Regions from separate parts of the Homo sapiens genome. Here region 1 is linked to region 2. The links come from fine-mapping of genetic effects on gene expression. Tissue or cell type: whole blood. Region 2 holds a variant in brackets; the other region holds the start of a gene. All regions are shown on one strand. Distances are from middle to middle.

Region 1 (4,240 bases), 53 kb after region 2:
CCACGAGCTTTCTTCACAAGCCAAGCAGCCCGCCTAAGGCCCAGGTCTCCCTCTCCTCGTCTCCCACTAGATACACATGGATGAAGCCAGATAGATAACAGGTAGAGGATAGATGACAGGCAGATGACAGATAGGCAGATGATAGATGATCGATAGATGACAGGCAGATGATGGATGACAGGCAGATCACAGATATGATAGATCACAGATAGATGACAAATAGGCAGATGATAGATGACAGGCAGATGACAGATAGGCAGATGATAGATGACTGATAGATGACAGGCAGATCACAGATATGATAGATCACAGATAGATGACAAATAGGCAGATGATAGATGACAGGCAGATGACAGATAGGCAGATGATAGATGACTGATAGATGACAGGCAGATCACAGATATGATAGATCACAGATAGATGACAAATAGGCAGATGATAGATGACTGATAGATGACAGGCAGATCACAGATATGATAGATCACAGATAGATGATAAATAGGCAGATGATAGATGACAGGCAGATGACAGATAGGCAGATGATAGACTGATAGATGACAGGCAGATGACAGATAGGCAGATGATAGATTGATAGATGACAGGCAGATGACAGATAGGCAGATGATAGGTGATTGATAGATGCCAGCCAGATGACAGATAGGCAGATGATAGGTGATTGATAGATGACAGCCAGGTAGATCACAGATATGCCGGATCACAGATGATGGATAGGCAGATGATAGATGACAGATAATAGATGATAGATTACAGATAGACGATCGATAGGAAGATAATAGATGATAGGTACATGACAGATCATAGATAAATGACAGAGAGGTAGATGATAGATGATAAATAGGTAGATGGTAGGTAATAGATAGGTAATAGATCGCAGAGAGATGATAGGTAGATGATAGCTGATTGATACATGATACAGAGATGATAGGTACATGATAGATGGATAGATCATAAATGACAGCAGATGATAGATGATAAATAGGTAGATGACAGGTTATAGATAGGTAAATTACAGATGAAAGATAGGCAAATGATAGATGATAGGTACATAATAGATGGATAGATCATAGATAATAGATGACAGGTAGGTGATAGAGGAAAGGTGGATGATAGATGATAGGCGCATGATGATAGATACCTGACAGATGGATAGATGAAAGGTAGATGATGGACAGGTAGATGATAGATGACAGATAATAGATGACAGATTACAGATAGATGATCGATAGGAAGATGATAGATGATAGGTACATGACAGATCGATAGATGATACGTAGATGATGGATAGGTAGATGATAGATAATGTGGATGATAAACATCAGATGATAGAAAAATCGATATCTGTGAATACGGGGGGTGGGGGATCAGAGAGAAGCAAATGATAAGCCCAATGAGGTAAATGTTAATGACCGAATCCACAAAAAGGATAAAAAGGAGTTATTTGTAATATTCTTATTCTTCTAATTTTTGTGTAAGTTTGAAATTATTTCCAAATAAAAAATTAAAACAACACGAACTTAACTTGTATCTCTCATTCCAGTGCTTTCCACTTGCTGGGGAACGCCGAGCTCTCCTGGGTTGGTCACGCGGGCGCCTTGGGAGGCCGCGCAGTCCCGCGTGGGGCGCGGCGGGGCGGCCCCAGTGGCACCGCGTGAGTCCCCGCCCAGCGTTCCCCACCCGCCGCCGCGTTTGCGGGGAGAGAATGACCCCCGTTTTGCAAACGCAGGACACAAAACCCGCCACCCAGCTGAGGCTGGGACCCACCTATACCCCCGTCTGCGTTTTTCTCCAGCTTTCTGTTCGACCTGATGTCCTCTTTGAGGCTGCGGGGATCCCCACCAAAAAGCACTCTGATTTTCTCCATTTTCAGATGCCCCAACCTAGCCCCACTGGCTACAAAGACGGCGCGCCCACCCCGGACGGGTCTCTGGCCGCTTTCTTGGGCTTCCGCAGTTGTTTAGAAAGGCAGGTACAGGCGGCCGCAAAGGCATCCGCCCCTTCCGAGCGCACACCTGGCCCGGTCCTCCTCTCCCGGCCCCGCGCCGGCCGCTCTCCCCCAGTTCTCTCTACTCGGAGCCGGGCGCGCACTGAGCACCCCGCTTCCCAGCCCCTCCGCCCACAGATCGGGGAGGCGCGGCCGGGAGGGGGGCGTGGGCCAGGGAAGAGGGGAGGAGAACGGAGAGAGAGGCTGGGGGGGTCGAGGAGACCAGAGGGAGCGCGCGCGGCGGGGACAGAGAGCCCAGGGGCGAGGAGAGGGCGCGGGGCGCAGCGGAAGGGGAAGTGGGGGGCGGTGAGGAGGGGCGCGGAGCGGGGGTTCTCGGGGGAGGAGGGAGACGAGGATTGGGGCAGCGCGGGGCGGGGACAGGGGCGGGGGGCGGAGCGGCGGGGCGCGTGGGGGACGGGCGTGCATTGAGCGCGCTCCAGCTGCCGGGACGGAGGGGGCGGCCCCCGCGCTCGGGCGCTCGGCTACAGCTGCGGGGCCCGAGGTCTCCGCGCACTCGCTCCCGGCCCATGCTGGAGGCGGCGGAACCGCGGGGACCTAGGACGGAGGCGGCGGGCGCTGGGCGGCCCCCGGCACGCTGAGCTCGGGATGCGGACGCTGCTGCCTCCCGCGCTGCTGACCTGCTGGCTGCTCGCCCCCGTGAGTGCGCCCGCGACCCCCGCCCCACGGCGCCTCGGACCCGGTTCTCCCCTTCCGAGAAGAGCGCTCCTCCCGCCGGTCTTCGCCTTCCTCCCGGGTGCTGGAGCGCGGGCGGGGTCCGGGAGAGGGAGCGGGGTCGCCCGGGGTCCGGAGCTTCCTCCCGGAGAGCGTGAAGCGCTGAGCTCCGGTCCCGCCGGGTTGCGGGACTCGGGTTGGGAGGCTGCCTGCGCCCTTCCCCGCGCCCCACCGTCCGGGGTTTGCTGGAAACGGGATCGTTTCTTCCTGGACGCGTCAACGATGAGCTCGTTCGGGGCCGTCCCGGGAGCTGGGAGCTGCGGGCGCCTGCGCGGGCTGCGCGTTTCACGGGGAGATCGGGGTTGGCGTTGGCCGCAGATGCCTCTCGGTCCCTCCCTGTACTTACTGGTTAGTTTTAGTGTCGGGGGGACGTGGCGTCGGTTAAATAAAGTTTCCTTTTGGAAATAGTTGCTTTTTCCCAAGGGCACTGGAGGAACTAACTGCTCATAAGTTTGTTGATTAAGTGCCTTCGCACATGGAGTTCTGAATTATTCCCTCTGTGAACCTTAAAAAAAAAGGAAAGAAAAAAGAAAGAAAAAAACCCGAGCCTTGTTTCTTGCTTTCCTCTTGGAGACTGAAGCGGGTTTGCGGTGCGCGCGGTTTTCGTGCGCGTCGCAGCCGAGGCAGGTCTGGATCGATCCGCGGCCCCTCCGCAGCTGGGAGGCTGCGCTGCTGACCCGACAGTGTCATTGATTAACCGGCGACGCCCGGTCTGCAGCGGGGCTCGAGCCACACTCCCTGGCCTTGCGCGGAGGCGCAGCTCGGCTTTCCTCCCTCGAGGGTGGGCGCTTTGCGGAGCGGGTCCTTGGAAAGTAACGGGTTTTATCACGGTTAATGCTGCTTTCATTGCTAAAATGTCCTAAAAGAAGTCATTGCTGTGCATATTCCAGGAACGTCAGGTATTATTAATGTCTTTTACACTTTAACAAAGTTTTTCTTTTTACATCAATATAATTTCCTTAATTCTGAAATTTAAGCCACTTACTTGTCCTGCATGAAAACAGAGGACTTGGAGCCCAAAGTCAGTGCCTGGTGCTGGTTCAGTCACGAGCAAGAAGCAAGCTCGGGGCTCTTTTAAATGGGGCTGAAGGTGGCAGAAGTTCCAGCATTGTTTTCCCCTTAATTCTGTTAGGATATTGTGTTCCTGGTTGGAACTCTCATTGACCATTTCAATAGTAAGATAACTAAACATAGATGGCCATAGTACGCCCAACAGTATGATTCTCTTTAGTTACTACTTTAGTACAAGTAGAATTTTGGTCGGTGGTGGGGGAGGGGGAAGATCAAGACCAAAAGGATGGGTGGGGGGAGCCCTCCTTAAGCCCCCAAGGGCCGCTTGGCAGGCCTGTGCTGACTTCGCGGAGGGCGTGAAGAACAAGGTAGAAACGGTGCCTTCTGAGAGGAAGCATTGTGTAGTTCTGCCTTCTTCTCACATTAGTAGACTGTTAATTACTATCTTTGTGGCACCTTTCGCTCCCCTGATGGATCCTGACTGGAAATCGCCCC
Region 2 (4,240 bases):
ACATTTCTGGCTGAAAACATTTGACTCCTCCCATGGCTCAGAAGACGCAGGTGTGTCTCACTGTCGTGGGAGCCTGGTTCCGAACATCAACTCTTTCTGTCCAGTTTCGTCAGAGGGTGGGAGATTAGGTACAATCTGCACTGAACCCCAGAAATCCCCAAGCTCAAAACCATTCTTCTCCATGTCTCTGGCAATTCTCTGCCAGCAATTTATTTCATGTGCTCTGTCTCTTTCTTAAAAATTAAGTAAAGCACCATTTCTTTAAAATGCTGAACAGTTAGACTCTGATAAAAACAGGAACTTCCCTGTATTATTTTATAGCTAAATTTACTAAATATTAGGCCTGACTCTCCTTATATACCCCAAGGGTATTTTCAAAAGTCTTGCCTCAAGAGCTTCCAAACTGCCTTGTGCACGTGCTCACCATACAGGGAACTGACTGCATGGAGAGATGCCCGTGATGGGGCCTCCTGAATGCTTCCTAATCCATCTGTGCAGAAGACTTGACTGTGTTTAATTGCCAAGCCACTACAGGCTAATACTAATAAAATACAACAAAAATAAATTACTAGAAAAATATAATTGTAAGAGATATACAAAAGCAAGCGTAGGTTTTTATTAGAGTTGAAACAAAATTATGTTTCAATAAATACAATCAGAACATAGTATAGAAAAATTATCAAAAATGCACAATTGTTTATTGAAAAGTATACACACCAGTACAGGCATAACTTTTGGTCCTTTTACAATCATAACTAAATAAAAACTTATGAACAAAACAGCAAACTTCCATGTCATGCTTTGAAAGCATATTGCAAACAGCAGTAATGGGTCTTTGATGTGACATATTCCTTCTCTCCTCATTTGTCTAATCCAGGAAGGAGAGCTGGAGAGGCACGTCACCCAGGGAGAAGCTCACCCACCCTGTTTCCCTGTTTCCATGTTTCATCTTTGGAAGCTCAGAGGCCATCCTGACAGAGGAGTGTTGATGACACAGGAGAGGTTGGATAATTTCAGCAGGCTTAAGATTTTATTTTGTCCTGCATGTAGGGCTCACACTGTAATCCTAGCACCCTTTGAGGCCAAGAGAGAATCCCTTGAGCCCAGGAGTTCAAGAGCAGCCTGGGCAACATAGTGAGACTCCCAGCTCTACAAAAAAATTTTTCAATTTGCCTGGCATTGTGGTGTATGCCTATAGTCCCAGTACACAGGAGGTTAAGGTGGGAAGATTACTTGAGCCAGGGAGGTCAAGGCTGCAGTGAGCCCTGATAGTGCCACTGTACTCTAGCCTGGGCAACAGAGCAAGACTCTCAAAAAAAAAAAAAAAAGAAAGAAAGATGTGATGCCTTCAGTCCCTCATCAGCAGTTATACTAACTATGCATTCTGTAAAATTATAATTAATCTTAAATTATTTCTCAAGAAGAGAAATGGATTCTGGTTTTATATATGTTTCTGTTACAGTTGACAAGCTGGTCCTGAAACACCACCAGTGGAGGTGCGGACGGCAGTGGCAGCAGCATCCACTCACCGTGTGAGTCCTGCAGGACCCAGGCGAGGCTCTGCCTGGTCACTGAGGCAGAGCTTGGACCCCGCACTTGGGGGACAGTGGGAGGCTGCTGCCTCTAACGGCTCAGTCGAGGCTTCCGTTCTCTGTCCGTGGCTCTAACCAGGCTCTGAGCAGCCTTGAGTCCTCTTCACTCCTGGAACTCACCTGGAAAGGGTTGGTGGCTCCTTCTCTCCAGCACTTCAGTGGGTTCGGGATGGCATTGGTGGGGGGAATGTCCTGTGTGTGAGATTTCTGCACACACGTGTGAGTGTGTTATGTGTGCACGTGTGTGCATGTGACATGTGCCTCATGTGAAACTGAAGAGAAACACAGTAGATGCTCTATGGCCTCCACTCTGTGGCTCCCTTGGCAGCAGTTTTTACCCACACCCACCGTTTCTTATGCAGCAGATGTGTTTTCACACAAAACTGCCCACAGACACGCACTGTGTGAATCAGACAGAAGCCGAGCCACTTGGTGCACAGGTGTGGAGAGAGGAGAGACCCACGCCTGCTGAGGCAGCCTCTGTCCACCTTCTTAAGTCCCTCACCAAGCAGGGCTTGAACCCCTCTTCCAGTTAGAAGGTGAGGAAAGAAGGGTGGGGAGCGTCCTGCTCTCAGCTATGGCCACCGTCTCCATGCTCAGCCATGCTTGGGAAGAACCCCACACACCAGCTCCCCCAGGCCCGAGGTCCTCCCGGGGGCCCATCCTGAACTTCACCAGGGACAGATTCATTAGCACTTGGGTCTAAATGACAAATAATCAGTGGTTAAAGTCTGTTGACATTTTAGGGGGATCAAAAGTGGTGAAGGAGCTGCCTTCCGGAGGCCTCCAGGCCAGCGGGCCCTCAGCTCTCTC[G/A]GTCTCGCTGGGGCCTGCCTCCTTCTCTGGCATAGAAACAGCAGGAGCTCAAAATATTTGAAAAAGGAAGGAAAAGAGGAATAAATAAAGGAAGGAAGGTAAGAAGTAGAGAAGAGAGGTAAGAAGGAGACTGGAACCTTCTGAAATCCCCCCTTGTTGCTGACATTGAGGGGCCCCTCTCCGAGCCACACACACCTTGCAGGTTTGTATTTGTGCCCAATGGACTAGACCCAGTGGCTGAGCCGGGAGGCTGAGGCTGTCTTCCTTCTGTCACACGTGATAACGTGAAAGTGCTGTGCAAATACAGGATGTAAGAACAAGAGAAATTTAGCATTCTCATTCTGCAGTGATATGACTGATAAGTGATATGACTTGCCTTAAAACACAAACTCGAGCTCAGGGCACCCAAAGCCTCTCACTCATCTATCCGTTCACGTATCCCTGGAGCTTCTCCTGCAGGCCAGTGCGAGGAGGCCGTGACCAAAACACGGCTCCTGTCTTCAGGGAGCCTGTGACTTCCCTGGGGAACGAGGTAAACAGGTCATGAAGACGCATAGTAGCTGCTGAGGGAGCTAAATAAAAGCACGTGGGAGGAGCCTCTAACTGGGGAGTTTTTCCTGGGAGGAGTCTGGTGAGCTGAGCCCTAAAGGACCAGAGGGAGGAACCTCTGACTGGGGAGCTTTTCCTGGGAGGAGTCGGGTGAGCTGAGCCCTAAAGGACCAGAGGAAGTCAGCCACGCTAAGGAGCGGGGAAGGCCTGGGGGAGGCTGTTTCTAAGCAGGGAGCAGAATGCACGAAGCCCCCAAGGCCCATGAACTCTGTGGCAAGCCCGGGTGGGCACGACTGGGCTGGCTGCAGTCTCCCTCAGTTCCACCACCCTGTCTGCAAGGAGCAAAGAAACCCCAAAGTACTTTGTTGTCTTAGTAAACACAACAGGTGACTCAGGGTATTACGTCTCTGATTATGATAATTTGTAAAAGTAATAGAAGCACGTTTGAGAAAATGTTGAAAATCAAAGGGGAAAAATATGTACCTTTAATCTTATCACTGAGCATAGTGAACATAGCAATTTAGATATATTTCCTTGTATCCTCTTCTATATACAAAAAGAGTTAATCGTAGTTTATGTACAATTTCATAATTAGATTTTTCACTAACCTTTATAATCACTGGTGTATTTCATACGCGAGGGCCAGCACCATGGCATGCAAACTGGGGCTCAGCCTCCATCTTCCCACATGCAGCGCCGTGAGGGACCCCTGGGATTTGACGTGGAGGCAGGGGTGCCCTTCAGTCTTGCAAACTCACTGAGCACGTGCCAGGCCTGAGCCAGGCGGTGGCAAGAGAGACAGGTGATGCCACAGAGGCACTGACATTCCAGCATGGTGACAGACAAATCAGGTTTTAAAAAGTGACAGAAACTAAGCAAGATGATTACAACATGCAATTTGTGTTGTAATGAAACTATCACAGGATTTTATCAAATGAGATGATAAAGGTTTTATAAATTTGAAAGCCAAATAGAAAATTAATATGATGATGATTTTTATTAGTGACATAGTTCATTTCTAAGATAATTGATAATATGTTTAGACTAAAATTGTCATAAGAAATATTTAATATTAATGGAAACTTATGTTTATTACAGAAGTGGTAAGAAGGAGCAGGCCGGGTGACCTTTCCTGCTGATTTATTACCTTATAAAAGATTCCAGGAAGTATTTTGAAAACACCATTTTCTGGTCTCTTTAAAGCACATATGCTGGGAAAGTGGCCAAGATGCAAACTCTTAAGCTCTTGGAGGATTTCAAATGTATCCCCTCGCTAGGAGGTAGAA

What was found. PIP is the estimated chance that this variant, and not a neighbour inherited with it, causes the effect.
Region 1: VIPR2 starts here. The variant in region 2 is fine-mapped to the expression of VIPR2 in whole blood (INTERVAL, PIP 0.97).

Annotation. Positions count from the first base shown.
Region 1 is chr7:159,143,140-159,147,379 of GRCh38, reverse strand. VIPR2 (vasoactive intestinal peptide receptor 2) reads left to right here and starts at 2,513. Exons shown (of 13, transcript NM_003382.5): 1 at 2,513-2,659. The coding sequence starts at 2,609. RefSeq lists an enhancer at 1-715.
Region 2 is chr7:159,196,208-159,200,447 of GRCh38, reverse strand. No RefSeq gene overlaps it. Among named protein-coding and RNA genes, the nearest start is that of VIPR2, 53 kb to the right of the region's middle. RefSeq lists a silencer at 2,994-3,063 and an enhancer at 3,174-3,283. The variant G/A (reference allele first, on the strand shown) is at 2,406.